6 separate regions of the Homo sapiens genome follow, and all the other regions are linked to region 1. Evidence: fine-mapped expression QTL. A gene starts in region 1. Each other region holds a variant in brackets. All regions are shown on one strand. Distances are from middle to middle. Region 1 holds the start of TMEM71 (transmembrane protein 71). Region 2 has its middle 22 kb from the start of DNAAF11. Region 3 overlaps PHF20L1 (PHD finger protein 20 like 1). Region 4 overlaps TMEM71 (transmembrane protein 71). Region 5 overlaps TMEM71 (transmembrane protein 71). Region 6 overlaps DNAAF11 (dynein axonemal assembly factor 11).

Region 1 (5,383 bases):
CATTATGGACAATTAGTATCTAGGACAAAGAAAGGAATTTAGACTTTCAGATTGGGCTGGTTGATTTGTAGGGAGAAAACTGTGGGTGTGTGAGGGAGAGTTAGAAGTGGGGTTTTGGGAGAAAATAACAAGAGGAAGGAAGAAACTTGAAACCACTACCGTTTTAACAGCGCTCTTATTTTCTGCAAGTAGCTATCAAAATCATTCAGCATTTTTTATATACAAACAGTTTTGCATCTTAATAGTAGCTGATAAACAATCTCCTTTCACATTTATGCACAGGCATCTAAAAAAAAACGGTGATTTTTTTTTTTCTACTAGAAGGAAAAATACCACATTTCTTTCAAGGAAAAAAATGAAGTTAAAATCATTGCCAAAGTGAACACTGGCATTTAAGAAGCACAAGCTACTGACAGATGGTTAATGGTCTGAGTATCAGCAAAATCAAAGCAAGGAAATTGCTAAAAGGAGTCTAATCGTTCAAAAGATAATTGCGTATCACAGTTCTTCTACATTTACTTGCTACTGGTGTTGACATCAGTTGAGATATTCGGTACATCTTGGGAAGGCCGCTTGCTCAAACTTCACAGATTCTCTGCAAAAGATGTTAAAAAAAAGGTGGACTATATATTAAAAATAGAAAAATTATGCCAAAACAGATGGCATCTACTAATTGCACTAGTCAGATTTGTTTACTGAAATAATACAGAGATACAGAATTGAAGGTAGGAGACCAGACTGAAGACACAACCCCTCTAAAGTTGTGTCTGCCTCTATGACTGAACATTTTCCATTGCCTCACTCAGTGCATCTCAATAACATTTTTCTGTAAATAAGAACCACACTTTATTTGGAAAATCTAGACTTAAAAAGGTTGATTTGTAATCCAAAGAAAATAATGAAAGTGAGGTATTTGATTAAGAAATCTTAATAAAATGACTGGTTCTAACAGTCATTTAGCCCCAAAACAAACTTACGTGTATTTTAATCATCTGACACAAGTCAACTTCATTATCAAGTTTCAAACAGTGCTTGGAGATTGGTGTCTGTCTTTTTCCCAACAACTTGAACCATTGACAGGTAGTCACAGAGAGTGATTTTAATAGTTTTTATCAGCCTGGACATTCCTAAACAGCATAAGTAATGTTGCACTAAAGATAGCATACCATTGGGAAGATTTTAGAACTTAGTTCCCATGAAGACATGATTTAATTTCTCAATTACTAATTAAAAACATATCAAAGTATGTAAATTATGCAAACTTTGATCATTTACTGTTCATCAAATAGAACCAACTTCTGTTGACTATGAAACTTTGTATATAGTATCACTATCCTAATCGCTTTATAAGGTAGGAGTAAATTATTTTCTGATTCACCACTTATGGCCACATTTTGTAACATGAGAACTAGTAATGGATTGTTTTTGTAGCTGTAATTCAATCAATCAAACCAGGCTAATTCTACAGCTTCAAGTTGAATATTTCAATAAATTATATATAAACCCTATTAGGAAAATATAAACCTGGTTTATAGAGACCTGTAAAGATGTCAGGAGAACTTTCTGGCCTTCCTTGGAAGATTTCTAAATCAAAGCACACATTTACAAATTTCATTTGTTTGGGATATAAAATAATCCCAGTGTAATGTAATATATTAGTATGTTACTTGTTCTTTTCATTTTTGATCAATATTGTACGGGTATGCCCAGCCCAAATTACCTTATTTTAGTGTTCCCCAAGTATTAAGCTTAATTTTAAGCCTATAAATCCTGCAGCAAAAGAAGGTCTTATTGCTCTATCTCACAAGTGCTTAGAAGAATCTACAGGCAGTACACTGACATTCAATAGAAAATTAGTAACAGTAGGAAAAAAAAAAGCCCTTCAGTTACAGATCTAAAACTTTTCAAGAAACAGAATCTGCCAGTTCCATCAAAGCGACACATCTATTCTGAAAAATAATGTGTGCATACGTGTTCCTTCCAAAGGGAGTTCCCAGCCTCTTCTTCCAATTGACAAAGGACAAAATTATTACTGAAATACGAAGCTTCCTGTGGTTGACAGTGGAAAAATTGAGGACTGAGCAGTTCCTCGGCTGAAAAATGTCTGAATGTCAACAGGTGCAGAAGTCTCTTAATAAAGGGAATCCCACCCTACCTTCTTCTCACAGATGCCCACGCACATTGCTGTGCACAGGTGCTTGCAGAGAAGTTTTGTCTTCGGCAGCCTCTTGTTCTCTTGTCTGTTTCCTGGTATAAATGAGTGTATAGTTCTTGGGAAAGTCAGTCTTACAACTTCTCTTGTTTTCTTTTGAAAACAGCCTGCGTAACCAGAGGCAAAGAAGCAGAATGAGGTCACACTTCCTGTTGGGCTCACATCAGTGGCATTCACACTGAGGAGTGTGCTGAAGATTTCAGAGAGTTTCCTGGGCCAGCAGCAGGGAATGTGCAGCCCATGTGTCAGGCCAGCTGGTTACACCCTGGTCACTGGAGGGGTGGTTTTCTGAGCTAACTTGTCACCTTTGGCTGCGAGAACGTGAGAAAGACTCAGCGAACTGACATTTCTTGCTCATCATATGGCCACATTCAGTTATAAGTAGTGCAGAGTAGTGATCTTTGTCCAAATCACTTAAATTTATTGAGGATAATGCACTGATGCTATTAAATTCAGAATACTATTAAATAGCAAGAGCTTGATCTTATGAAAATTTCTATAGAGGCAATAGGTTTATCTAATGAAGGTTGGACTTCACAAAAAACTCTATAGATGGCATTTTACATTTACATTATAGTAGAGCTCAAAGACTTGATGGTGTTTATGGGTTCATACACATCTGTACTACTGTAAGTGATAAAAGAAATGTACATTCAAATATATATTCCAGCAACATTGAGGTACCACTGCATAGTGGAAAGAGTGCGGATTCTGGGGTCACAAGACAGAAATTCAACCTGTCTACCATCCTAGCTGTGTGACCTCAGATTTGTGACTTACCCCTCTGAGTTGCAGTTTTCTCAATTATAAACATAAAAATATATATGTCATATGATGGCTTGAAGAATTAAATGAAATAAAAGAAATGAGAAATAATCGAGTCCTCAGCACAGATGTGCAAGGTGTATTCTTTATTTGTTTTCTTAAATCAAGTTCTCTTCTGAGGCACCAGTTGGTCCGGCTGGCGGAAAAGTTAATCTCATCCTTTCCTGGGGTTCCCTTTCCCCCTGAGGTTCTGCCACATGGCAGGATCTTCTGTAGAACATGTTCTAGGCAGCAGGAACTGTCAGGAGGAGGGCCCATCTAATTTCAAAGTTCTCTGTCTCTGGAACTTCATGTCTATTCTCCATCCCTTGAGTGTAGACTGAGGCTGCTGACATGCTCCTTGTAAATAAAGTAAGGCAAAGGTGCTGAGTTTCCACTACCATGATGAGGCTTCCATCTTGTTGGACTCTATTACTTTCTTGCTTGCCTGCTTTGATGAAGCAAGCTGCCATGGTGGAGAAGCCCATGTGTCAAGGAATCAAGAGTGGTCTCAAAAGCCAGTAAGGGTCTGATGCTCCATCCAACAGCCAGGAATCCAGCCAAAAACCAAGTGTGTGAGCTTGGAAGTGGATCCTTCTCCAGTTGAGCCTTGAGCTGACTGCAGCCCCATCTAATGCTCGATTGGAACTGGGAAAGACCCAGAAGCAGACAACCCAGGCTAGCCCTGCCCAGCTCCCTGGCCCACGCAAACTGGGAAGTGACAAATGGTATTTCAAGCCACCACGTTTTGAGGTAATTTGTTACACAGCAACACATAGCAGATGCATAGTCCTAACACAGGTCACTTCCTGAGCCATCTGTCATTGCTGACTCTCTGCTGCTTTAGTGACTCCTGTAGAATATAGTCACATTTACTCAAGGCTACTCCTGGTCACATCTGCCTAAATTTAACAGACAGCTATTCTGCTTCACAGCTGTCTGGTATTCTCTTTACTGGAATTCACAGTTCTCTTCTTCTCCTTTTCCTGTTTTTCTTATCCCTCATCCTCCCTCTTCCAGCCTTGGCTTATCTCTTCTAGATGAGGGAGGAAAATCTTTCTGACTTATTCGAGACCCTCTGCTCTTCCTGTGCCCACAAATCCACTTTTCCGAAGAGCTCACATCAGAAAGACTTTGGTCTACTTTTTTTTTTTTTAAAGATCTGGCACATATTAGAACCTTATTATTAATGATCATAATAATTGCTAACTTTAAGGAGTGCTTACTATGTACCAGGCACTGTTCTAAGGTCTTTCCACATATCAACACATTAATTGTTACATCAATTCCATGGGAGATGCTGTATTATTATTCTCATTTTACAGAAGAGCAAACTGAGTTTAGAGAGTTGCCCAAATTCACATAGCCAGTACGTGATGAGTAAGTAGAGCTAGGATTCAAACCCTGATGAGATGGCTCTCGAGTTTGCTTTCTTAACCTATAAGTGTAATGATCATATCCAACGTGTGTCAGCATTTTCTACAAACCAGGCACTGCACTAAACACTGTACATATGTAATCTTGTTTCAACCTCACGTAGCCCTAGAAAATAAGTGCAATTGTTATCCACATGCAGGACAGAGGTTTATAGAGTTTGCATAAATCTTTCAAAATTGCCAATGGCCAGAACTAAATTCCAAACCTATGGTTCCCCTCTCAATCTTCTCTCTTGAGACCCACTCATCTTCTTCTTGTTTCTCATACACTAGACACGGGTCTACTTCAAGATCTTTGAGGTTAGTGTTCCCTCACCCTAAGGGTCACAGGGCTTTCTTCCTCCCCTCCCTCAGCTCTTTTCTCCACTGCCTTGCTACTAATTAATTGCCCTCCACACCACTCCCTAGTCTCTTCCTGCTTTATTCTTCTCCTTAGCACTTTTTACCAAGGAATATGTCACACAATTCATTCCTTGTAATAAGAAACGTACTCCTCAGCCAGAACATGAGCATTAAAAGAGCAGAGAATATTGTCATTTTGCTTCATTTTAATAGCCCAAGTATCAAGAGTAGTGCTTCCCATATAGTAGGTTATCAATTAATGTTTGTGGAATTAACAAATAAATTAATTACATCCAGGTAGACTTGCCTTCAGAACCTTTATTCTGCATGTTATAAATCAATGTTTCTAAAAGCATGTTCCACAGAATATTCAGTCCTCCACTGTTAATGGAGGTGATGCGTGTGGATGGGGAAAAGACGAGTGGCAAATTTCAGTACAAAAAGTTCTAGAAAGCATAGGTCTCTAATAGAGGTCACTATAGAATCTTTTAAATGATACTCGGACTTGCTACTATACACAGGAAACATGGTCTCACCATCTGTCAAAATTATTTGCCTTGAGAATCTTTTGGTCACATAATATCTCCCA
Region 2 (5,383 bases), 64 kb before region 1:
AACTAATACAGGGCAAAGATGAATCCTAAATTTTTAATTTGTAAAATTGAATGATGCCACTGCCATTAACTAAGATAGTGAAGACAGTAGAGGGACAGATTTGGAGGAAGTGGGAACTACAAACTCTATTTTGGACATGTCAAGTTTGAGATATGTCTTAGCCATCCAGATGGAAATTTTGAGAATTAACTTTGGCATATGCATGAGAAACAGAGGTCCAGGCTGGAGATCTAGTTGGAGGAGTCATGGTTTACAGAGGTGTTTACAATCGTGAGTATGGATGGCACCACTCTAGAAGTGAGTTTAGGCAGAGAAGAGGTCTGGCATACTCCAAAATTTAAATGCTGAAAACATGTGGAAGAATTACCAAAAGAGATATAAAATGAGTTTGGTAAATTGAGAAGCCAAGTGGGAAAAGTGCTTTAAGAAGGAGGGAGTCATTACTTCAAATACTGCTAGGTCAAGTCAACATGTGGACTAAGAACTGACCATTGGATTTAACAACATTGAAGGTTGTTGACGTCTTTAACATGGGCTACTTGCATGGACGGTAGGAGTCAAATCCTAATTGGGGTGGGTTTGAGAAAGACTTGAAAGAGAAGAAATGGAGACAAATAAGCACAGAACTCAAATCTACCAAGGAATTTTGCTGCTACTGTAAGCAGAGGAATGGAGGAGGGGAATTGTTCTAAGCAACGAAGAATCAAAAGAGGTCTTATTTAAGACAGGTATTATTACAACACGCTGGCATGCTGCTGCTGTAGGAGGGAGGGGACAATTCCTGGAGCAATTTTTATAAGTAGATAAGAGAGGGTGGGCTGCAATGCATGAGTGGTAAATTGGCCTTAGACAGCAGCAAGAACTTTCCTTCTATAGAAACAGGAAGGAAGGCAGAGTAGGAACAGATGCCCGTAGGTGGGATATATGAGGTGGCAATAGCTAGCTGTATCTTCATAATTGTTTCTATTTTCTCAGTAAAATAGAAACGAAGGACATCATCTAAGAATGAGACTGGGCGAGGAGGTACTGAAGCTTTGAGGAGAGAGGATAAGTATGAAATAATCACCCGGGGAATGGGAGAGTGAATTAATAGGACTTAGTAAGATGATTGCGAGGCACCACCAAACACACCATGAGGCTGTGGTTATGAATTCAAAGAAAGGCCCGGATGTGTGTTTTTTTCACAAGGCATGTTTAGCATGTGGGTGAAGCTGAATAATAGTTAGAGTATTCGATTCAACCAGAATTAGAGTTTAACCCGGAAAGTACAATGAATGAAGAGAGATACAAGGGAATGATTTTATTGACAGCACATGGAATCTAAGCTGAATAAGAACACAAAGGAATATATGATTGAGGATAAGTGAAAAGGTGTCAGGACCAGTGGAATTTGATCCCAGTCATTGAAAAATTATTGGGAGAAAGAATGAGCTGGAAAGATGGTGATGGTTAAAAGTGGAATGTTCGATATTGATGGCATGGGGGAGGTGCAGTTATGGGAATGACAAGGTCCAGGCTTGACTGTGAGTGCATATGCCTAACTTGGGGTTAGGATACAAAGTTATAAGCAGGAAAGAAGCAGAGAAAGTGGGTTGCCAGGAAAAATGCACATGAAAAGATAATCAACATCATTATCCATCAGGGAAATACAAATCAAAACCACAATAATATACTACTTCACATCCACTCAGAGTTGGCTAGAATAGAAAAGATAGATATTATGAAGCATTGGAGAGGATGTGGAGAAACTGGAACAATCACACGCTGTGGCTGAGAATACATAATAGTACACTCACTTTGAAAAGCAGTTGGCATTTTTTTTTAAGTTAAGCACAAATTGACCATATGACCCAGCAATTTCATTCCTAGGTATCTCATAAAGTCATGTATGTGAATTTCATAGCAGCATTTTTCATAACCAAAGGGTAGAAACAGCCAAAATGTCCATCAATTGGTGAATGGATAAACAAATGTGATATATTTACACAGTAGAATACTATTCTACTATAAAAAGTAATGAAGTAGAGATTCATGTTGCAGCATGGGTATGCCTTGAAAACATTATGCCACATGAAATCAGTGACAAGATTGGGTAAAGAAAATGTGGTGCATATAC[A/G]CCATGGAATACTATGCAGCCATAAAAAAGAATGAGATCATGTATTTTGCAAGAACTTGAATGGAGCTGGAGGCCATTATTCTTAGCAAATGAATGCAGAAACAGAACACCAAATAACACATGTTCTCACTGATAAGTGGGAACTAAATGATGAGAACGCATGGACCCAATGAGGGGAACAGCAGACACTGAGGCCACTTGAGGGTAGAGGGTGGGAGGAGGGAGAGGAGCAGAAAAAATAACTGTTGGGTACTAGGCTTAGTACCTGGACACAAAATAATCTGTACAACAAAGCCCCATGACATGACATGAGTTTACCTATGTAACAAACCTGCACATGTACCCCTGAGCCTAAAATAAAAGTTAAAAAAGTTAAAAACACAAAGACCGCATATTGCATGATTCCATTTACATGAAATGTCCAGAATAGGCAATTTTATAGACTGTTAGTAGATTAGTGGTTAGTAGCCTGGGGCTGAAGGATGGGAATGACAAGTGACTGCAAATGGCAGAGGGATCTTTTTGGGGGTGATATAAGTTTTCTAAAGTTGGACTGCAGTGATGCCTGCATAACTGTAAAACTAAAAATCATTAAATTGTATACTTGAAACAACTGAATGTTACCTTGTATAAATCATAACTCAATAAAGCAGTTTTTAAAAAATATCCAAAATAATCCCAGCACTTTGGGAGGCCGAGGTGGGCAGATCACTTGAGGTCAGGAGTTTGAGACCAGCCTAGCCAAGATGGCAAAACCCCATCTCTACTAAAATTACAAAAATTAGCTGGGTGTGGTGGCATGCACCTGTAATCCCCGCTGCTTGGGAGGCTGAGGAAGGAGAATCACTTGAACTTGGGAGGAAGAGGTTGCAGTGAGCTGAGATTTTGCCACTGCACCCCAGCCTGGGAGACAGAGCGAGACCCCATCTCAAAAAGAAAAAAAAAAAATCCAAAAATAAAAATAAAGAAACTGATGGGCCAGAGTATGAGAGGAGACATCAATGTGTATGTGGAGCTCACCAAGAATGACTGGAATCGTACTAGAGAGATTGACAATGAGAGAGATGCTAAAGTCTTCAAGAAATGAGGAGTTAGTATTTGCACGTAGAAGCAGCAGCAGATAGTGCAGTCTGGTGTCATGAGCTTCAAAACTGGAGGTTTTAGGGGAGAAGAGGGGATAATCATCCAGTAGGTGCAATGAGAAGCAAGGAGGACCTCAATCTTACTTCTAGGGCCAGTGATACAATAAGAATGGGACAGAAAATATTAATAAAATGTATGTATTTATAACTTGTCTTTAATTATCACAACACCCCTGTGAGATAGGCAGGGAAGCACAAGTGGAAAACATCCTGGACTTGGAGGCAGACCTCACCTTGACTCCTCCAGTGGTTGACAATTGACCTCAAGCAAGTGACTCACCCTCTTGGACCCTCACCTGTAAAATGGGAACTATAATTCCTATCAACCTCGCAGCACAACATAAGGCAGAGTGTTCTGAGCATGAGACTAGAGTAAGTATGCACAAACCTATCCCACACTTCGTAATAGACCATGGAAAGCTCTTATCCTCATATACTCTTCATTTGTGCTAACGAGAAACCTGAATTTCAGAGAGGTTAGATGATTTTCCCAAAACCACACAGCACTACAAGAGAACATAGATCTTCTGACCCCTCCCAGCCAGCTGCCACCCCTTGCAAAGCTGCTTCTCAGGGGCAACTCTCTTCCAGGGTTTCTATGCTGACTCTGAAACATAAATAATAGACAAGCATTCAGTTCCCTTTGGTACTGTGAAATCATCACACCAGAGAATTTCTAAAGCTAAATTACAATGTGCCTGGTATAAAGAGGGCATCTTGAATAATCTGGGCACAGTCAATATTTCCACCACATGCCATGCCACCTGAAGCTCTCTTTCTCTGCACCAGACACAATATATTCCTTGCCAGTTCACTAATGGGTCATATCCAGCCATCCACTCCTTAAGCAATTACTTATTTCTGGAGCTTCTGTTCTGGTGAAAAAAATAGGGCAGAACAGAGAGGAACCAAGAACCAAACCAAACCAACAAAAATCACACACCACAAATGAATAAGAATGATAATTTCTGACTGGGCACGATGGTGCACACCTGTAATCCCAGCACTTGGGAGGCCGAGGCGGGCTGATCACCTGAAGTCAGGAGTTCAAGGCCAGCCTGGTGAACATGGCGAACGCTGTTTCTACTTAAAATATATATATGTATACATATATATATATATATATACACACACACACACACAAAAAAAATTAGCCGGGCGCCATGGCAGATGCCTGTAATCTCAGCTATTTGGGAAGCTGAGGCAGAAGAATTGCTTGAGTCCAGGAGGCAGAAGTTACAGTGAGCTGAGATCACACCACTGCACTCCAGCCTGGGCAACAGAGTGAAACTCCGTCTCAAAAAGAAAAAAAAAAAAGAATGATAATTTCTGATAATGAGATAGTTGTGTGACCAGGGGTGGCGTGCCTGAATAGGGAGAACATCCCTAAGATGCTAGGGACATCTTCTCTGTGGGGGAGGTATTTGCATGATGAGAGGAAGTTGGCCCTGAGAAGTTCAGAAAGAAGAATGTTTCTGCCTGAGTGTCCTACAAGTGCCAAAGCCTTCAGGTAGAGCTGAGCTTGGTGATGTTATAAGAACAGAAAGGGGAGCAGTGCTAGGCGCTGTGATGTACTAAGCAAGAGGAAATGTAAGGTGGGATTGAGGGTAATTAACAAGGAAGCCAAGTGGCCTGATGTCAGCTTTAGAGAGATCACTGTAATTGCTGTGTGGAGACTGCAGCCTGGAAGAGTGAAAAGAGGGAAGGCCAGGTAGAAAACTTTCTCTGCCCTGGAATAAGTTGCTCCCTTTCCTTCAAATATCCTTTCCCATTTTCCTTACCTGCCAAACTCACTCACTCACTCTTTTTTTTTCAAGAGCACTTCACAACCATTTACAATAGCCCCAAAAGTGGTAATAACCCAAACATCCACCAGTGGATGAATGAATAAACAAAATGTGTTATATCCAAACAGTGGACTATTATTCAGCCATGGAAAGGAAAGAAGTGCTAATACATGCTAAGATGTGAGTCGGATAAACATACAAACATTATGTTAAGTGAAACAAACCAAATGCAATAGGTCACATATCATATGATTCCAGTTATATGAAATAGACAAAATAAATCCATAGACAGAAGACTAGTGGCTGCCAGGGGCCAGGGAAGGGCAGAATGGAGAGTG
Region 3 (5,383 bases), 71 kb after region 1:
TACTTTTGCTGAAAGGACAATATATAATGGAGTTGATAAGAAGGCAGCCTTGAAGGTTTAGTATAGGTATTCAAATCCTGCCCGTAACACTTACAGCTAAGCGACCTTTGACAGGTTATTTAAATTCTCTACATCCCAGTTTCCTTTCTTCTAAAATAAATGGTAATTGATAGTTTTATTGCATAGATTTATTATTCGAATTAAATAAAGTAATCATTGTAAAGTACTTGATACAGTACCTGGCATTTAATAAATGTCCTTTCCATGTCTGGGCCTAAGTAATATGGTGTTGGGCAAACTGTGGTTATGGTGAGGCCACTGGAGTCAGAATAGCGTAGTGCTGCCCAAAGACTGCTGTAATCTGACAGCATCAGCATCATCTGGGAGTGTTTCATTCCCAGTGCACTGGAGATGAGGCCCAGGAATCTGGGGTTTAACAAGCTTGCCAGCTTGTGCACCCTTTAAATGTTGAAATACACCGATATCACTTATTTGTTAAGAGTGTAGCTTCCATAGTCAGGCTGCCTGGGTTTGAATGTTGGCTTTGCTATTGATAGTTGTATATTCTTGGGCAATTTGCTTCATCTGTCTTGCCTCAATTCTTTACTAGCAGTCCTACTTCCCTCATTAGATGCTTGTGAGGATTAAAAGAGTTAATACACATAAAGAACTGAAAATTGCATTTGGCACATAGAGAGCCCTCAATCAGTGTTGGTTGTGCCGTGGTATTTATGATGATGAGTGTAAGTTTCCCATTGCTGCTGTTGCAAATTACTGCACATCAGTGGTTTAAAAAAATATGTATTTATTATCTTAAAGTTCTGGAGGTCAGGAGTCCAAAATGGGTCTCTCTAGGTTAAAACCAAGGTATCAACAGGGCTCCATTTTTCTCTGGAGGCTCTTAGGGACAGTCTGTTTTCTTGCCTCTTCTAGTTTCCAGAGGCTTCTGCATTGCTTGGCTCTTGTCCTGCTCCCATCTTCAAAGTCAGCAGTGGTCCAGTCTTTCTCATCTTGTTTCACTCTCACGTCATCTCTTCTGCCTCCATCCTTTCACTTTTAAGGACCCTTGCCATTACATTGGGCCCACCCATATGATCCAGGATACTCTCCCTGTTGTGAGGTCAGCCGATTAGCAACCTTAATTCCACTTTTCCACATAGCTTAGCTTATTTAAAAGTTCTAGGGTTTAGGACATAGACATTTTTGGCAGACTATTCTGTCTCCCACAGCTGCCACCTTCAAATGGATACTTAGCACAGACCAATGCGTCTCTTATAAGCTCACTTTTCCACTCTCTGTCTTTCCTTTTTCCCACTCGTTTCCATCTCTCATTTCCACCTCTCATGTATTCCCTAACCTGCGTCACTTGACATCCTTTTCCTCACAGAGTTGAGAAGACAGACATCATCAGGTGGGAACTTGCTCATACTCTATCTACCACATCTGCATGCTTACATGAAAATATTCATCATCTTAGCCTCTATTAAAATGGAGGGAATGTCTGCTTTTCTTAATCTAGCATTTCTCACCACTGCCATCCCCCTTTCCCACATCTTAAGGTTCATGTAGGTAATGTGTAAGATTTCCCATCTTACAGAGCCCTCTTCTAAACTTCTGTTTCTTCTCTGGTTTCTCCACCTTGCATTTACTCTTCAGCCCCATCTCATACCCACTTTTGTTGCCTTGTTGCTCACGCATAAACCTGGAAATCAATCTTGATAATGCCGTCTTAGCTCTCGGCCTCCAGTCTATAACAGCACTCCATCTTCCTTAAAATCTTCCCCTTATTTGCCATCACCCAAGTTCTGAGCCACCAACATTTCTTTCCTGGACTACTGCTGTAGCCTCTGAACTGTCCCCCCACTTCTATGTGTGCCTTCCTGCATTCCATCCTCCATTCCACAGCTAGAGTGATCCTCTGGAAATGAAACTGTCACATCTTGCTCCTCCTCCACATAAGCATTGAATGACTTTTTATTGCATTAGGGTAAAACTTTTTAAAAAAAGCTAATCTGGCTCCTGTCACTCTAGCTTTGTTTCTCCCTTATTCACTGTGTTCCAGCCAGTCTTACAGCTTGCCAAATGTGGCATGCACTCTTCAGCTTCAGAGCCTTCCCACATGCCTGGAATCACACCCCCACCTCCTTTTTTCCTTCCCTTACTATACCCTCAACTCTCCAGTAAGCTGCATATGGCCTCTCCCCTTGCACACATCTGTGGGACTCATTACAAAACTGAGAAAAACAGAATTTTTACAGAGTTCTTCCAGGACTAGTTAATTACCTTCAGAGATTTATTACTTGAAAAATTTATTGATCAGATTATCACTGTATAATTGGTGTGCCAGACATCAGGAGAACCTCTTTACGAATTGTGGGGAAGAAAAAAGGTGAATTTCCATCTTGCATATCTTTTTTTTTTCCTCTTCAACTTTTATTAGGTTGGTACAAAAGTACCTCAATTACTTTTGCACCAACCGAATAAGTTCTGGGGTACATGTACAGGATGTGCAGGTTTGTTACACAGGTAAATGTGTGCCATGGTGGTTTGCTGCACAGATCAACCCATCACCTAGGTGTTAAGCCCAGCACGCATTAGCTGTTCTTGCTGATGCTCTCCCCCACTTCCCACAGGCCCCAGTGTGTGTTGTTCTTCCCCATGTGTCCATGTGTTGTCATCTTGCATATTTTACTGCAGACATAGTTGTGATTATAATGGAGAGAAAATGTGAAATAATCCTTTTTCACCTCTATAGTACTTCACAAAAGTTTACAGGTACCAGTTAGAACCTGGTGCCCCCTACTATGTATATATTGTCTGGGGTATATTTGTTTCCCAAGTGTTCTTGCTAAACCCAGTTCATCAGATCCATATGTAGCTTTTCATGGATGAGAAGCGAAAGTGGTAGCATGATTATTTGGTGTATCCTGAAACATGACTTTCGTTATTTTTATAGTGACCTTAATTATCTGACACTTTATTAATATTTCTTTCTGTATCTTATGTTGCAGACTATTCAGACTATGAAGACAGTTCCCTCGAATTTTTGGAAAGGTGCTCTTCTCCACTAACTC[G/A]ATCTTCTGGGAGTTCTCTGGCTTCACGAAGCATGTTTACGGAGAAAACTACAACCTATCAGTACCCAAGGGCAATTCTATCCGTTGATCTTAGTGGTGAAAGTATGTGTAACCATGTGATGGTTAAAACAAGACTTACAATTCCTAAATGTGTAACTGAGAATAAAACGTACTCTGTTAAGAGCATGCGATTTAAAAACTTGTTAGCTAAACTAATATGAAAGTCTTGATGTGAGAAATTTGAGCTACTTTTTAATTTATATAAAGTTAAATTGGCTTTATACTTATTGGTGGAAGAGAGTCATAAGGAAAATATTACTAGTGTATATACTTCTGTAGGTTTTTGCACATATATTTTTATATTCTTCACTATCAACTGACAGAGTAGGTATTATTCACATTTGATATATAAACAAGCCGAAACTTACAGGGTAAGTAGCTTTTCGGCTTAGCTAGTGTTAGAATTAAAACTCTAACCAAGGTCTGTCTTAACTCCGTAGATAATGCTTTCTTAAATAAACATTTATGGTAATCTTAAAAGTATACTTTGAATTCCTGGTCAGATACATCTGTAACCAAAGTCCTGAGATGTAGTCAGACAACTGATTTAAACACAGGCAGGAACTAAGCGCCCTTAGGTAGTCAGAAGGCCACGTCAGCAGTGAAGGGAGCACTGGAGTTCAAATCTGTTAGACTTTCCTGCAGGTCCAGTCCTGACAGTGGAAAGTGTTGAAGACTCTTACCTTGCTTCCAATATTGTAAGCAATAGGCACAGAGATCCCAGCTGTAGACATTGAGGGCTGTGGCATAAGAGTAGAGCTCTAATGCAATAGCAACCAGAGTCAGAGAGTGAGGAATAAGGGACGGGGCCTTCAGCATAAGTACAACCTAGGATCCTTGTGAGTGAGCTCACTTCCTCCCTTTTTCTTTCTTCTGACTGACCTCGATGGTGGATACTAGGTTAAATGTTTGCTTTTGCACCGTTTGCTTCCAGGTCTAAGTCCTCCCTGGCTCGTTATGGAGAAAGCATTTTCTTTCCTTTATAGCTCATGACACTTGTGAGATTTTATTTTTAGAACCTTGAGGTATGGGAGGGGATTAAAAAAGAAGTTACCACCACCCTTTTCCAGCAAATACAAGTCTACTTTTTCCCATGGTTCAGTGGTTCTTCACCCCCGGTGAACCTTACAATCATTGCTGCGGTTCTTCTAAACTATACTGATCATGGATCCTACCATGAGGCACAATTGAATGAGATTTCTGGAAGGATCCTGGCAAGATACAACTTCTAGGTGATGCTATGGAGAAGCAGAGGTTGATAATCACATTAAGAACATCCTTACTGTGAATCATCAAGATCTGAAGATTATCTCTTGCTATAGAAAGATGGAGAATAGGGGTTATATCTAGGCTAGTTGTGGTGCTGAAACAAGAACCCTTGAAAGAGCATGAAAAGAGCCATAGATGTGTACTCTCTGTTCTTAGTCTCTGCCCTGCCCTTATGATCAAGTACTAAGTCAGGAGAAAGAAAAGGAAAATTAATAAGGCCTTAGGCCAGAAATTCTCAATGTTAGCATGTGTCAGAACTGCCCAGAGAGTGTGTTAAAACACATTTCTGGGCCTCACCCTCAGAATTTCTGAGTTCCAGCAAGTTCCCCGGTGATGATAAATGTTGCTGATCAGGAAACCACACTTGCAAAATGCTGTCTCAGGAAATAGCAATGACAATTTAAGGGGTAGTTGCTGGAAGGCAACAGCTGTTCTTGTGGCCACTCAGTTGGAGCCATTGTCTAGGTGGCTATTCAAGCGTAAGGGGGAACTTTTATTTGCTTCTTACATAACTTTCAGCTCTGTCATCCATTTTACTCAACTTCCAAAACTCAGCTAAGCATAAGTTTAATGCTTGGGAGTTATTCAAACTAGATTTGTGGAGAATATGATAAATTTGCTTGCTAACACCATAAAACTGGTAATCTTTGCCATGCAAGTATATGTGAGATACACTAATTCCTTTCAATGATATAATTTCAAATTAATTTTTATTTATTTATTTATTGAGGCAAGATCTTGCTCTGTTGCCTAGGCTGAAATACTGGTGTGATCGTAGTTCATTGCAGCCTCAAACTCCTTGGCTCAAGCAATCCTCTTGCCTCAGCCTCCTGAGTAGCTAAGACTACCAGCACAGGTCATCATGCCTAGCAAATTATTTTTGCTTTTGTAGAGATGAGGGCTTGCTTTGTTGTACAGGCTGGTTTCAAACTCCTAACTTAAAGTGATCCTCTCACCACGGCCTCCCAAAGTGCTGGGAC
Region 4 (5,383 bases), 50 kb before region 1:
TGGGGCTCAAGAGCAACCATCTGGCTGGAGCCCACTGCTAGGGGACATGTCCTAAAGTCATTTTGCACAGCAACACACTTTATACACTTGGAGGAGAATCAGTGGATGTTGTGTTCATTATCTATCACCATGTAATGACATTAGCACAAGCTTAGCAGCTTAGAACACACATTAATCTCAGTTTCTGCAGAGGTCTTTAACTGCGTCCTCTGCAAGGTTGTAAAGAAGGTGTTGTCCTGCACCGGCCTCTCATCTGAAGCTTTCACTGGGGAAGGCCTTAGCCATTGGGTCCTGGAAGATATCTGCATTCCAGAACTCTGGAACCTATGACTAGATTACCTTATGTGGCAAAAGGACTTTGTAAATGGGATGAAGTTAAGGATTTTAAAATGGAAAGATTATTCTGGATTATCTGGGTGGGCCCCATGTAATTACAAAAATTATTTAAAGAAGGAGGCAAGATGTCTAAAGTCAGAAAAGGAGATGTGACCACAGAAGCAGAGGCTAGAGTGAAGTGGTTTGAAGATGGAGGAGGGGGCCAGGGGCCAGGGAATGCAAGCAGTCTCTAGGTTTTACCCTTGTAAGGCTCATTTTGGACTGACCCCCAAAACTGTAAGATAATAAATTTGCATTGTTTTAAGCCACCAAATCTGTGGTAACTTGTTACTGTAGCCATAGTAAGCTTATACAGCCGGGGAGAAAATGTCCTTGTCAACAATGAAGCATTATATGCACGTAAACAGTTAGTACTATTTCAGTATCTTACTTTGAAAAACATTATCATTTAAATCAAATGACTCTGTAGAAAAATGTGTGTTACACATAGACAAAGGAAATGTAGAAATTCTCAATGGAAGTTCTCCTAATAGTGTATTAAATGAAAGGCTCCATATGCATTTAGTTCTCCATTAAATTCATTTTAAATCCCACTTCAAAGCATTCATGCACGTGGATTGTGGATCACTTTGTGATCACTTAACCTACTTGTAAAAATGGCAAAGGCATGGGACATATCCCAGACCTACTAAATTATTACACGAGGCTATTTCAAATACAACTGTGGTAAGCTTACTAATGGTCCCCCAAAATAGCCAGGTTCTAATCATAGGAACCCATCAATGTTACCTTATATGAAAATAGGGGCCTTGAAGGTGTCATTAAGTCAAAGATTTTATCTTGGATTATCAGAGTGGATCCTAAATGTAGTCTCAAGTGTCCTTTAAAGAGGGAGGTAGAGGGAGATTTTACTGCAGAAGAGGAGAAGGTGATGTAATGATGGAAGTAAGAAATCAGAGTGGTGTGCTTTGGAGGTGGAGGAGGGGGCCACAAGCCAAGGAATACAGACAGCCACTGGAAGCTAAAAAAGGCAAGGAAATAGATTTTTCCCTAAAGCCTCCAGAGGGAAAATAACTCTGCTGACCTTTATTTTAGACTTCTGAGCTCCAGAACTGTAAAACAATAACTTTGTGTTGCCGTAAGCCACTTGGTTTAGGGTAATTTGTTAAGGCAGCAATAGGGAAATAATACAGTCTTCAATGAATGATGTTCTGCCATGATTTCTCAAAAAAATATATATATACATATATATATACACACACACAAATATAAATTTGCTGATGACTTCACTTATTTATTAGTTTATTTTTTAACCAAAAATGTACTAAATGCAAATTATATATAAAGTTATATTTTGGCATTATCATTTCGAGCAAAGACAATTTTCTGCATGTATGAGTTTTTACTCAGAGAGTATCACATAGAACAAATTTGAATTACAGGCCATATTTGCTTTGTGAACACGCACCAAGTGTGGGGGGTGGAAAGGGAACATCTACAGCCCTTGAGTCAAGGCTCAAGGGTACAACTGCACCATTTTCATGCATTTGAAAGCGCATTGGTGTTTTGCCTATATTTTGCCCTCAAGGCATTTTTCTGTGTTATATCTTTAAGTGACATTAAAGTGAAAGGTAATTACGAGCCCCAAGAAGATTAAAAACTTGGTTTAGAACGTGGTTCAAAAGAATATAACTTTCAGAAAATGCTTCTTTCCTGTCCATTTTCATATTAACCATCATCTACGGTTACCACCTAATATCAAGTCACTCCACTGAGGTGAATGACAAACTTTTGCAGCATTATATTTTATGTACAAATTGCATTTATTGTTATTCAAGTTGTCAGGTTGGTATTAGTTAGACAAACTTGCTCTCATTATTCTATTAAAGCAATTCAGCAAGAGATAGGTGCATGTGGCAGACCCAGAAATCTGGTTACAAGCTCCTCACAGAATTTCCTAATGAAAATTCAAGCTCGAGAACCACTGCCTTAAAGAATCATAGGGGGACATTTATTCCAGGCGGTCTCTTTTCCATCACATTCCCCGTCCTTTTCCTTTCAACTGCCGGTGTTTGCAAAGGGAAGGCAAATTAATATTATTTTCATGAGCATATTATAATTTTGATGGAAAAACTGAGATCATTTTAAAATCACATAGTCAAACTAAAATGGCTTTTTCTCCATTACTCGCTTACTCCCTTCCAATAAAACACTTGATTCCAAGTAGACTGCAAGTTGGACAATTTCCAGATATTCAGATGGAGGACATTCATC[G/A]AAGGCATTCCTAAATGGTTGTCAAATTTTGACAAACCTAGATTGGAGAAATAAGAAAAGAAATGCATAATTCATCCCCATGCACAGGAAATGCAGTATCTAATCACTGCATACCCATTTGCGCATATATAAGCACACACCCACACCCATACCCACAACGGGCCTGAATTATCACAACTAGGAAGAGTGCAGCCTCAACTAAGGGTACTTTTCGTTTTTGCTTTTATCCCAGCAGTTCTTAGTGCTCTCCTTTTTGTCTGAAAGACTATAGAGGTTTTGACCCCTCAGCCCAGCGTGGTACTTAGTTAACTAATATTTCCTATGGTTTCCTCTTCCCACCTGCCCTTATGGCATTTTTCTGTATTATATCAGTATTTTAATTGCACTTTAAGTGAAAGGTAATCATGATCCTCAAGAAGATTAAAAACTTGGTAAAGAAAATGGCTCAAAAGAATACACCTTCCAGAAAATTGCTCTCTCCTGCCCCGTAGAACAGCCTGTAGGGTAACAGGTGGATTTTCCCCATATTTTTATTCCCTAAAGTTTATTCACTCATTCATTAAGTATACGAACATACATTCCTTCATTTAAGAGAGAACAGATGTGACCCATTTTGTTACTATGAAATCATAAGTGTGCAAAACGTGTACCGCTGATGCTAACACATCATTACTAACATGAGATACCTGTGCTGACCTTCATTTGCAAGGGACACTCAGGCCAGTGGTGGACAAGACAGATAGTCCCTATCTTCACAGGCTTTAAATTTAATCAGGAAAGCAGTTGACTAAGAATTTCATTATGTTATGAAAAGGGATATGATGTGAGCCGTGTGAGGTGCTAAAGAGGCACCTAATCTAATCTAACTTGCACAGTGCAGGATGGGTGTGTGTGTTGGGGGGAGGGTGCTGCATTAATATTTGTTGAACTGAATTCAGTTCCTTAGATTCTCATCATTGATTGTTAGAGGAGACTTATGAGTCATTCTTGATTCTCGATATTAATAACCATATCTTTGGTTTATTAGTTTCTCGGTATGTTTATATAAGAAGGAGAGGGTTGCAAAATCTTTAATATACACGCAGAGCTCTTGGCTTTCAAGGAAGTACTTCAAGAAATGATGCAGTAAATACATTAAATTTAATGAATATGTACAGAGTACATACTATTTTCAAGGCTTTGGTTGTAGATACAAAAATGAAGTCAATAGTCCTTGTTTTCACAGGTCTTAAATGCAAATGTGTGTGTATATGAGGCTGGTGGGCAGGAAACAGGAAAAAATGGAGTTGGGAACAAGAGAAGAACAAGTCAAAGTATGTACACAAATAATCAAAGAAAGGATCTCCTTCCATAAATGAGTCAGAAGATAAAAGTGTTTGTTCAGGATAGAAATATTGTCCTGATGTAATTTCTTTTGGGAGAGAACAAACAATGAGCTCAGAACAATGGGAAGTTCTGAGAAAACAGCAGGTGATATAACCCCTGCAGATCGGATATTGGCTCTTCCAGGAGGCCCTCCCTGAACATACTCCCCACTCCTCTTAGTCTGGGAAACTGACCTCCTTGTGCTCCCCCTGGCTCCTGTACTAACCTGATATTTGCACTTACCATATTAAAAGGCAACTTCACCTTGCCCCTTACAAGTCCTTTACTCTAATGAGATGATAAAATCTCAAAGCCAGCCACATGCTGGGGCATTCACACCCTGGTACCTAGTGACTGTGTCTAACCCATGGTAGACACTTCATTAACAGCAACTGAGCTAAACTTGGTACCCCATACCGTATAGAACATATTGTAAATTCTTAATAAAGATTTGGTAACTTAGGTGGTGCCACTTTAGAAATCAATAATTGTTTTAAACAAATGTCATTAACTCCTTTTTCTTTTTTCTTTTTTCTTTTTCTTTTTGTTTTTAAGACAAATTCTCTCTCTGTAGCCCAGGCTGAAGTGCAGTGGCATGGGCACAATCACAGCTCACTGCAGCCTCCACCTCCCAGGCTCAAGCAATTCCTCCATCTTAGTCTCCCCAGTAGCTGCAACTGCAGGTGCGCATCAGCACACCCAGCTAATTTTGTCTATTTTTCGTAGGTCTCACTATGTTGCTCAGGCTGGTCTAGAACTCCTGGACTCAAGGAAGTCTCCTGCCTCAGCTTCCCAAAGTGCTGAGATTACAGGTGTGAGCCACCACACCCAGCCTTGTCATTAATTTCAAGGGCTAAATTATAAGGATTTCTTGAGCTACCCAGAGATTCGATTTTCTAAATATCAGGTTGAATAAAACTTAGCTGTATGTGCACCCCCAGAAACCAGAAATACCCAGAAATTATGGGAAGCATCACTCAAAATGTCAGTAAGTCAATATTGGCTAGAATCCTAACCAAAATAAATTTTCACTAAACCCCATTGTGATTTCAGAATTAGCGCAGATTTTGTAAGAGTGCCATGGTGAATTACAGACCTCAGTCTCCAAGCCATGTGAGTTTGCCTCTGGCAGCCATATTGAAGTGAAGGTAATTAACACAGTCCATCGTGCAATAGGATGGTGCTATCCAGACTGTTTGAAATTCTATGGGCATCCCAACCAGACCCCAGTAACCCTTTGAAATATGCTGAACCATGGCAGTTAACACACAAGGGGATCATTAAATGAATAAGAGAAGGCACAGAAATCACAGTTTGTAACTGAGATCATTTCATGGGCAGTTTGCCAGCTATTTGGGAACGTCTAACACAAAGGTTTCTTCAGATGAGGTATTTATAAAGTGTAGTG
Region 5 (5,240 bases), 40 kb before region 1:
CACAGAGACAGAAAGTACATTAGTGGTTTTCAGGAGGTGGAAGAGGAAGGAAAGGAGAGTAACTGCTAATGGGTAGAGGGTTTCTTTTTTCAGTGATGCAATTGTTATAGAATTAGAGTGGTGATGGTTGCACAATTTTGTAAATATACTAAAACCACTAAAGGTGCACTTAAAAATAATTTTTAAAATCTGTTTAAAAATACAATGAATAGCATTTTTTAAAATGCAATGAATAGCATTTTACATATGTCATTTCACACAATAAATTATTTGAAAAGGCCTGGCCAGGTCAAAGGAGATATGTAACTTTAAACTTGGTCGACATTATGGAATCTCCCTACCTGGGGATTTTCTCTTTTTTTTTTTTTTTTTGAGACAGAGTCTCGCTCTGTTGCCCAGCCTGGAGTGCAGTGGCACAATCTCGGCTCACTGCAAGATCCACCTCCCGGGTTCACACCATTCTCCTGCCTCAGCCTCCCGAGTAGCTGGGACTACAGGTGCCCACCACCACGCCTGGCTAATTTTTTATATTTTTAGTAGAAACGGGGTTTCACCGTGTTAGCCAGGATGGCCTCCATCTCCTGACTTCGTGATCCATCTGCCGCAACCTCCCAAAGTGCTGGGACTACAGGCGTGAGCCACCGTGCCCAGCCCCCCTACCTGGGGATTTTAAGAATAAATTGTTAAAAATTTCACAGCAATGATGGAGCATGTCTGCTATTTCACAACCTTGTCAAAAAAGTGTGACCAAGCATTTGAATTTTTGCCAATATGATGGGTGATGATGTCACTGAGTAGATTTATTTCAAAAAAGAATAGTATTTTTATTGTTTTTATTTTCAAAATGTGAATCATTTGAAAGAGATTACGAATAAATACAAAAAGGAAAAGAAAATATCATCAGAAAAATCCCACCATATGGAAGAAGTTATTAATAAAATCTGGTGAATATCCTTTGGAAATCTCTTTATATGCATTTTAAAACTGTTATTCTAAAATGAGCTCTAACATAAATACAGCAAAGCCTATAAAGTGTACAACTTGATTTTGATTTTTTGTATAAACACCTGTAATTGCTACCCAGATCAAGATATAGAATATTTCCCGCGCCCTTTAAGGTTCCTTGGTTGTCCTTTTCAGTATATACCCTCGGAATTAATCACTATTCTTACATCTATAATAATTGATTTGTCTTGCCTTTTCTTGAATTTTATATACACAGGTTGAGCATCTCTAAATAAAAAATTCAAAATCTGAAATGCCCCAAGTTTGAAACTTTTTGAGTGTCTACATGATGCCACAAGTGGAAACTTCCACACCTGACTTCATGCCACAGGTGCAGAAAATTCCCTAAAATATTGTGTAAAGTTACCTTTAGGCTGTGTGTATATGAAACATAAAGGAATTTTGTTTAGATTTGATTCTCATCCTCAAGATGTCTCATCATGTATATGCAAATTTTCCCAAATGTACAAAAAGTCCAAAATCCAAAATACTTCTGGTTCCAAGCATTCTGTATGAGGCATACTCAACCTGTATGTGCAAACATATCAACTTTCCTGTCTGTCACCTATCACTTACTATGAGAAACATCCATGCTCTTGCCCACGTCTATACAGTTTTAGTCAATTTTTAATTCAAATAAACATTATTAGAATAATTTTAGATATGCAGAGAAATCAGAAAATTAGGACAGAGGGTTCTCATGTGGTCTCCAGTCAGCTTCCTCTATTATTATTACTGTGGTATGTTTGTCACAATGAAGGAACATGGTAATGTACCAACACTGGTACATTACTATGATCTCAACTCTACACTTCATTTGGATTTTTCCTTTTTCTATTCCAGGATCCCATCCAGGTCACCACATATGTTTAGTCATTGCGTCTGCTAGGCTCCTCTGGGCTCTGAGAGTTTGTCACTTTCCCTGGTTTTGATGACCTTGACAGTTTTGGAAAGTCCTGCTCAGATAATGTGTTGAATGTCCCTTAATTTTTTTTTTCTGCTATTTTTCTTTTGGCAGACTGGGATGTGGAAGACCACAGAGGTAAAGTGCCATTCTCACCACGTCGTATCAAGGGGACATGCAATCAGTGTAACTTATCTCTGTTGATGCTGACTTGTTCACTTGCAGCAGTGTTTGTCCTGTTTCTCCACTGAAGAGTTACCTTTCTTACCCCCTTCCTTACTCTACTCCCTGGAAGAAGTTTCTAAATGCAGCCCTCCCTTAAAGGATTAAGAGTTAAGCTCCGCCTCTTAAGGGAGGAGTATCCACAAACATTAACCTAAGAAACATACCATTTACAGTCCTGTGAAAGAAAAGAAAGGGCTCTGCGATCAACTTGGAGGTGCGGAAAACACGAAGTGAAATAAAGCTAGACGTGTTCCTTCACCACATTATTTCACTGATTATTATACTAATGCACATCATGGTCTTCCAGTTTGGGATATAGAATGCAGAATTTTGCAAATTTATTTTTAACCACAGAAGCACCCCCTCCGACACACACACACTCCACTTTTGTTCTTGTGGTCCCATTGTGATCTAAAAATGTTTTGCAAACCTCATAATTATCTGGGAAGCTTATTTTAAATTACCAATTCTCAGTAAATCTTAATTAGAATCTCAAGAGATGGGATCTAGGACTTTGTATTTAAAAAAGCACCTCCTCCAAGTGATGCTGCTGTATTTGACCCTCAAAATGTGGGACTCGAGAGCAGGCAGCCCTTGCTGGCCAGAGTTCAAGAACCATAAAGACCCCTGGACTGTTGTATTCACCTTTGTTTCATTGATTCAATAAATATTGAAGAACCCCTGGCACTGAGGATACTGAAGTGAGGGAGACGCACAATGT[G/A]TCTGCTGTCAGGCAGCTCACATTCTTCTAGGGAGAGGCAGATCCCATTAAAACTTCAACAGCTAATCATGTCACAGGTCAGGGGGTAATAAGTGCTCAAAAGAAAAGTAAAGCAAGGTGCATGCGACAAAGAGTGGCATGCTATTTATAAAGGATTTTCAGGGAAGATCTCTCTGATGATGTGACATTTGAACGGATTTTGTAAAGAAGTAAGGTCACAGGTAATGAGGCTATCTGGAGGATTCTAAGAGGCAGAGTGAAAAGCAAGTGCAAAGGCCCTGAGACAGGAGTGGGCCTAGCACCAAGGAACCTGATCACTGCCCTGGAGACTTGAATAGGGAAAGGAAAACAAGGCAGAGGAAGAACATACAGGTCAGAGGGTAGAGAACAAACATACCTATAAGAAGGCATGAAGAGACAATTTATGTGGGGATATACAAATACAATGGGAAGGGTGGAGTCTCTGCAGGGACCCTAAATCGCACAGTGGGAACTTCAAGTGGCTTTAAACTCCAGCTATACTTAGAGTATATCTGTTAACAGGAGCCACTTCTCTTTGGAGAAAAAGCAATCCACTGTAAAATACAATTTTAAGCAACGTACACTGGGTTTTGTATGCTTTCTAGGTGGTTTTCTTTTTCTTTTTTTTTTGTCTTTTTTTTTTTTTGGCAGAGCTTTGCTCTTGTTGCCAAGGCTGGAGTGCAATGGCGGGATCTCAGCTCACTGCAACCTCTGCCTCCCGGGTTCAAGCAATTCTCCTGCCTCAGCCTCCTGAGTAGCTGGCATTACAGGCATGAGCCACCACGCCTGGCTAATTTCATACTTTTAATTTTCACCATGTTGGTCAGGCTGGTCTCGAACTGCTGACCTCAGGTGATCCTTCCACCTTGGCCTCCCAAAGTTCTCGGATTACAGGCATGAGCCACCGTGCCTGGCCCACTTTCTAGGTTTTGTATGCTTTGTGAGAGGATAGAGGTGGGCAATGAGAGATAAAGGGAAACTTATCATGGACAGACACATGAACGAATCTCAACCACAGAGCTACCTAAAATGTTTTGTGGAATAAGGCAAGGAAATCATCAATCAGCTATAGTTTCACTAATTATGAAATACCGCTGCATGAAAATAAAACGTGAATTACCTTGCACATGCAGAAATGATTAAGCACACAGCAAGCAGGATTGCCTGAAAGAAGACCTCTTGCAACAACCTGGTTTCTAATAGGAAGAACAAAAACAAATAAATTAGAAATCATTGCTGATTCAATCATCTTGGAAGAAAAAATCATCTCAAACTTCCCTTGTACCCACCAAAAAAAAAAAAAAGTTTTGGAATGTATGTCAGTTCAAGCAATGTGTCATAAATAACAAGATAAAATTACCTACTGTTATACAGGGCTGTCATTAGAAAATTTCTGCAAATAATTACTTTCTTCAATCACTATAAAATAAAAGACTATGCTATTTTCACAGTTTAGGGCTTGCCTTTTGATTTAATGTTGGGGAAAGGCTTTGTAGAGTTTATGATAATGTAAGAAATCTAATTCTGTCATTGTGATAATAATAATGTCTAAAATCTGTAAAGTGCCTTATAATTCACAAAGAGCTTGTATACGTTAGTTCACTTAAACAGCACAACAACGCTGTGAGGTGGATGCCATTATCTTAGTTCTGCAAAGAGAAGAAAAAGACTAAGAGAAATGATGAACTTGTCCAAGGTCACATAGCTATGAGGTGTCACAGCCAAGATTTAAAAACCACATCTAGACAGAACATAACATTTTGTCTGAAGTGGGCAGGGAAAGACAATTGCAACTTTGCATAATGGAAGTCTCTAAAGACAAAAAATGAGAACATATATTATGAAATATTTGTCTTTGAAAACTCTTTGCAATCAGTACAATATTTCAGTACTGCCAAGCCACAGTAGAAACTACAAATTATCCAGCAATTATAAGCATAAGAGTTAATTCAATCATGAACCTCAGTATTATTCTAATCACCTTAAATAAATTAAAGCTGATTTGAGGATTACCACATAAAAAACCTAAAGGAGAATATAAACAGACCTCAACTTAATTTTTGCCAAATGCTTCAAAAGCTCAATTTTGCAACAGTTGTTTAAAACTTGGAATGACTTTATGTTATGAATGCATTTATTTTTGCTATTTATGCCATGAATGAGGATTGAGTCAGCTAACAAAACCTACTTAGCCCATAATGCGGGTGGAATGCTGAAGATTGGCAATTCAAAATATCACAGTAGTAAATTATGTCACTGCAAATGTACAGTTGTTCATGTACATTGTGAATTCAGTTATTGTGGGTTCAACTGAATACTCAACCATCCTTCTAAAGTGTGTTTCTATTCTTAGCCTCCCCTGAT
Region 6 (5,383 bases), 160 kb before region 1:
TTATTTACCAGAAGGCAAGTACTATTCCAGTCATTGGCTGAATCAAGGTCTCTACTCTCATAATCCCCACATTTAGATAGGTAAAGACAAATCATACAAAATTTAACAAATAAGGCCATTTCATACAGTAATCAATACTGTGATCAAATAAACCAAGTAATATGGCTGAGAAAGATGACTGTGACTTATAGAGATTGTGACTGGCTATATTAGCTCTGGTATTAAAAAGAAAAGTCCTTCTAAAAATGTAACATTTGAGCCCAAACCTGCATAATACAAAGGAGACAGATGTTGATATGGTTTGACTCTGTGTCCCCACCCAAATATCATCTGGAATTGTAATCACCATGTGTCAAGGAGGGACCTGTAATCCCCCTGTGTGGAGGGAGGGATGTGATTAGATCATGGGGGCAGTTTCCCCCATGCTGTTCTCTTCATAGTGAGGGAGTTCTCAGGAGACCTGATGGTTTTATAAGGGGCTCTTCCCTCTTCACTTCCTTCACAGGCTCTCTCACCTGCTGTCATGTAAGATGTGCCTGCTTCCCCGTCCACCATGAGTGTAAGTTTCCTGAGGCCTCCCAAGCCATGCAGAACTTTGAGTCAATTAAACCTCTTTTCCTTATAAATTACCCAGTCTGGGGCAGTTCTTTATAGCAGTGTGAGAACGGACTAACAAAGGAAATTGGTACCAAGAATGGGGGTGGTTTCCCCCATGATGTTCTTGTGATAATGAGTGAATTCTCACGAGATCTGATGGTTTGATAAATGGTAGTCTTTCTGGCTCCCTCACACACTGTCCTGCTGCCACGGTCCACGTTTGCTTCCCCTTCACCTTCCACCATGATCTGGAGGTCTCCCCAGCTATGTGGAACTGTGAGTCAATTAAACCTCTTTCCTTTATAAATTACCCAGTCTTGGGTATTTATTTATAGCAGTGTGAAAACAGACTAATACAGATGTAAACAGAGAAAGGGGCAGAAATGCTCTTGGCAGAAAAAGCACAGAAAACACAAAAGTCCTGCCGGTGGGAACAAGGTTCCAGAAACTTATTGGAACCTTCTGTATTCCAGAACCTTATAGGAATTTCCTGTGTTTCAGAACCTTTTTGGAATTTTTTGTGTTCCCGAAAGAGAGAGAGACAGAGGGGAAAAAAAAAAAAAAAAAAAAAAAAAAAAAGCTGTGTCCAGAATATGAGAGGAGAAAAGTGGAAGAAGGTATCAGAAACATAGGCAGAAACTACCTTGTACACAGCCTTCTGGGCCACAACAAGAAGTCTGAATATATTTCAAGTGCCATGGAAAGCCATTGGTAGGTTTCAACACGGGAATAAAGCTATTATTTGCAAGATGTATATTTTTATTTTGCAAAATTTACTTCTTTAAAAAAAATAAATAACAACCACGTTGAAATAATTACACCTGAGCACAGACAAAAGACTGAAAAGAAACAAAACAAAATGTTTATCCAGATAGTGGGACCATGAGTTATTTTTTTCTTTACATTGTGTTCTATTTCTACAGTCATAATTTCATAATAGGAAAGAAAAAATATTTTAAAACACAACTATAAACGAAAAAGTAAATAAAAGGGCATTCTGGCTTCTCTATGGAGAAAGTATCAAAGAGGGGAAAGAATAGAGCAGGGCAAACCGTGAGAAGGCTGTCCAAGGTAGTCCAGTTGGGGGAGGACACTGGCTTGATGGGAGGTGATGGTGGGAGGTGGTGTTAAGAAACTGAATTCAGGATGTATTTCAGTAGTGGTACCCGCAAGATGTAGTTAAGCATGCCTCCTAATCATTGACTTGAACAACTGTGTATCAGTTGATGGCGCCATTTTCTGAGACAAGGATGACTATGGGAGGAGCAGGTCTGCAGAAGGAAATCATGGGTTCATTTGGCTATTTTAAATTATTGAGGCTGGATATCAGCAAGATAGCAGGATAGGAAGTCCATGCTGACCATGAATTCATGTGGCCCGTCAATTGGCAGGTGCATACAAAATGTCATTGATTCTCAGGCCAATAATTTGCTAATATTTATATTATGAGGAAAATTTTTAAAGATGTAGTTACTGATATGTATATGTAAAATCAACACTGACAGTTACATAAGGCAGTTATGTGGCCTTGAGTAACCAGAGAGCAAATCTAACTATCAACTGATTCCTTCAAAATTATTTTCTACTTGGAAGGTCACTCTTCTGACAGTTCCCCATAGAAGATCATCCACACATTGCAGTCTAAAACTGAAAATATTTTATTAAGTTAGGACAAACATTAAGACTGAGAATAATATATAAAATGAAAATAAAATTTTCTTTTACAATCTTGCTAGAGACAGTCTCTAAACATGCTGGAGAGGGTTTTGTGCCTTAGGAAAAAAATGACATCCTGAATTCAACCCTTCTGTCTGACCTGCAGGCTAAGTACCCAGGACCTGAGGCTCCTCCCACTCACAGTAGTGGTGTTCACAGTAGGTGATAAAGTGAGCAAATAACCAGGCTGACTTGCCTAGGCTACTTTAGCCTCACTGCCTAGGAGAAAGCTTCAATATCAGGAACACTGGAATAAAACAAAGAGCGACACTCCCTCTCCTGTTGCCCCCTGTAAGGATCCAGAGTGATGGGGGCATCAGCCTGGTTCCCAGCCTCGAAGGGACTGTGATGAGATCTGTCCGACTAGGGACAGCTGTGCAGGGAATTGCCACAGTCTATGGCTTCTCCCAGTTGTCTTGAATTGTTGTCTGATGTTGTCTTATGTTTTCCTCCTCATTGCTGGCAATTAGAAGAATGACCTGTCATCCACCCCAACTGGCCAATGGGAAAAAGGGACAAAGCCCATTTTAAGTGGCAACTTTGCAGTTCTGCAGAAGCTATGAAACCAAGTCACAGAAAGACTGTGTTTGGAGCCTTTGCAGTCAGGGACAGAGACATCACTTGACCAGTGGAGAGCTAGCCTTGGGTCACCTCTTATTTTATTTTTAAAATAACCATATACAGATTCATGGATATAAAGAATACAAGAAAGATGCAGTTGATGGGTCTGTTTCAAGACGTGGCTGTTCCCCAGAGCCCACCGAGCACTGCCATTCTTGAGAGCACCACCTGCCCTGTGTGTAGCCCTGAGGAGCCTTCTCCCTCATACCTAGGAGCCTCACCTC[G/A]CAACGGGAGGCCTGTGAGTTTCCAGTGCCCGCAAAGCTGATTCCATTCTTGGATCAAGGTCAGCTGTGCAGGGAGCTCCTGGTGAGATCTGACTTACCTTCTGAGCAGCTAGGGCCTGACCTTCATCTGGTATCTACTATATGTTTATTTTGACAAGAATGTATGAAGTTGGCAGCAATAGATTTCATTATTTAAGTGACATTTGTTTATTTCACTTCCAGGAAACACAGAAAAGAGAAAAGACAACCCCTTGGTCTGGGAGGATGCCAGGCAAGGTTTTAGAGAGGATGCCCATGATTTGGAAAAGAGGCTTCTCTATAACCTTGAAGAAAACAATTATCTGCAAATAATGTGTATTTCCTTGTCCCCAGTTGACAACAAGCTGGGTAACTATGCAGGTTATCTTCCAATTAAAGTGGTATGAGGAATCATGGAAGAAAGGATACATTTCATTGTATCTACTTTTGATCCTCAACAATTTTCTTAGTGGGGTTGGGGGGGAATTTCACAGGAGAATAAAGACTGCTAAGATACTGATACTCATGAAATATCCTAAACCACTTCCTTATTTTAGAGTAGAAATATTGGGAACAAAATTTTAAAGGTGAAGCACTTTACTATATTAAGCTGCTAATGATCCAAAAGTAATCTGGCTGTAGATGAAAATTATGAGGCATTGTTTGTGTTCATTTGGAAACATACCCTATGATTTAAGGCAACATCAGAATTTCATTTCCTCTTCTGCAAAATGATAATCACCCCTACTCCATAAGATGTTCAAAGTATTCAACACTGTGTGTGGCACATGGTAAATGCTCAATAAATAGTAGCTATGTCTTTGTCGTTATTATTAACTGGTATAAGGATAAAAGCAAGAGCCTAAATGGTGTGTCTACTTATCACATTTATTACAGGATTCTGAAAGAAGAGAACTAATGACCCCAATCTAGTGTTTTCTATGACATGACACATCTATTTATTAAATTATGACCTTGGGAAATGTATATAACCTCAGCAAGCCTCATTAAATAATCTGGATAATAAAAATCCCCAGGTTACAGGGTTATTGCAGAAAGTGAGTTGTTTAAACTGTTTATCACAGAGCATATACAATTTTTGCTAAATAGTCATAATTGTAGATATATGAATGTAGGTGGTAAAGTCTTTCAGGGCAGGGGCCAAGCCAATTTTATTTTTCTATTCATAAAAAGTATAGCACAATATCTCCCAGACTGAAGGTATATAAAATGTTTTCAGTTTGTGCAGTGGGTATACATGTAAAAACCCTAAGTATAAATCCTGCAGTTAGCCATTATCTCTTTAAATATTATCTCTGCTAGAAATAAAGATGTTCTTTGAAACCAATGAGAACAAAGACACAACATACCAGAATCTGTGGGACACATTTAAAGCAGTGTGTAGAGGGAAATTTATAGCACTGAATGCCCACAAGAGAAAGCAGGAAGATCTAAAATTGACACCCTAACATCACAATTAAAAGAACTAGAGAAGCAAGAGCAAATGCATTCAAAAGCTAGCAGAAGGCGAGAAATAACTAAGATCAGAGCAGAACTGAAGGAGACAGAAACACAAAAAACCCTTCAAAAAATCAATGAATCCAGGAGCTGGTTTTTTGAAAAGATCAACAACATTGATAGACCGCTAGCAACACTAATACAGAAGAAAAGAGAGAAGAATCAAATAGATGCAATAAAGGATGATAAAGGGGATATCACCACCGATCCCACAGAAATACAAACTACCATCAGAGAATACTATAAACACCTCTACGCAAATAAACTAGAAAATCTAGAAGAAATGGATGAATTCCTGGACATATACACCACCCCAAGACTAAACCAGGAAGAAGTTGAATCCCTGAATGGACCAATAACAGGCTCTGAAATTGAGGCAATAATTAATAGCCTACCAACCAAAAAAAGTCCAGGACCAGAAAGATTCACAGCCAAATTCTACCAGAGGTACAAAGAGGAGCTGGTACCATTCCTTCTGAAACTATTCCAATCAATAGAAAAAGACAGAATACTCCCTAACTCATTTTATGAGGCCAGCATCATCCTGATACCAAAGCCTGGCAGAGACACAACAACAAAAAAGAGTTTCAGGCCAATATCCCTGATGAACATCGGTGCAAAAATCCTCAAAAAAATACTGGCAAACCGAATCCAGCAGCACATCAAAAAGCTTATCCACCATGATCAAG

Evidence for each region. PIP is the estimated chance that this variant, and not a neighbour inherited with it, causes the effect.
Region 2: its variant is fine-mapped to the expression of TMEM71 in whole blood (TOPMed, PIP 0.93).
Region 3: its variant is fine-mapped to the expression of TMEM71 in whole blood (INTERVAL, PIP above 0.99).
Region 4: its variant is fine-mapped to the expression of TMEM71 in whole blood (TOPMed, PIP above 0.99).
Region 5: its variant is fine-mapped to the expression of TMEM71 in whole blood (TOPMed, PIP above 0.99). The same link has a PIP of 0.9 or more in blood mononuclear cells.
Region 6: its variant is fine-mapped to the expression of TMEM71 in whole blood (INTERVAL, PIP above 0.99).

The regions. Positions count from the first base shown.
Region 1 is chr8:132,758,321-132,763,703 of GRCh38, forward strand. It overlaps TMEM71 (transmembrane protein 71), which reads right to left and starts at 2,262. Exons shown (of 10, transcript NM_001382403.1): 1 at 2,156-2,262; 2 at 520-595. The coding sequence starts at 559.
Region 2 is chr8:132,694,572-132,699,954 of GRCh38, forward strand. It overlaps a transcript of DNAAF11 not described here. Among named protein-coding and RNA genes, the nearest start is that of DNAAF11, 22 kb to the left of the region's middle. The variant A/G (reference allele first, on the strand shown) is at 2,117.
Region 3 is chr8:132,829,224-132,834,606 of GRCh38, forward strand. PHF20L1 (PHD finger protein 20 like 1) reads left to right here. Exons shown (of 21, transcript NM_016018.5): 15 at 3,012-3,176. Among named protein-coding and RNA genes, the nearest start is that of TG, 35 kb to the right of the region's middle. The variant G/A (reference allele first, on the strand shown) is at 3,075.
Region 4 is chr8:132,708,336-132,713,718 of GRCh38, forward strand. TMEM71 (transmembrane protein 71) reads right to left here. Exons shown (of 10, transcript NM_001382403.1): 10 at 1,606-2,647. The coding sequence ends at 2,632. Among named protein-coding and RNA genes, the nearest start is that of DNAAF11, 35 kb to the left of the region's middle. The variant G/A (reference allele first, on the strand shown) is at 2,611.
Region 5 is chr8:132,718,044-132,723,283 of GRCh38, forward strand. It overlaps TMEM71 (transmembrane protein 71), which reads right to left. Exons shown (of 10, transcript NM_001382403.1): 7 at 3,997-4,072. Among named protein-coding and RNA genes, the nearest start is that of TMEM71, 40 kb to the right of the region's middle. The variant G/A (reference allele first, on the strand shown) is at 2,856.
Region 6 is chr8:132,594,202-132,599,584 of GRCh38, forward strand. All of the region lies in intron 10 of DNAAF11 (dynein axonemal assembly factor 11), which reads right to left. Among named protein-coding and RNA genes, the nearest start is that of HPYR1, 35 kb to the left of the region's middle. The variant G/A (reference allele first, on the strand shown) is at 3,159.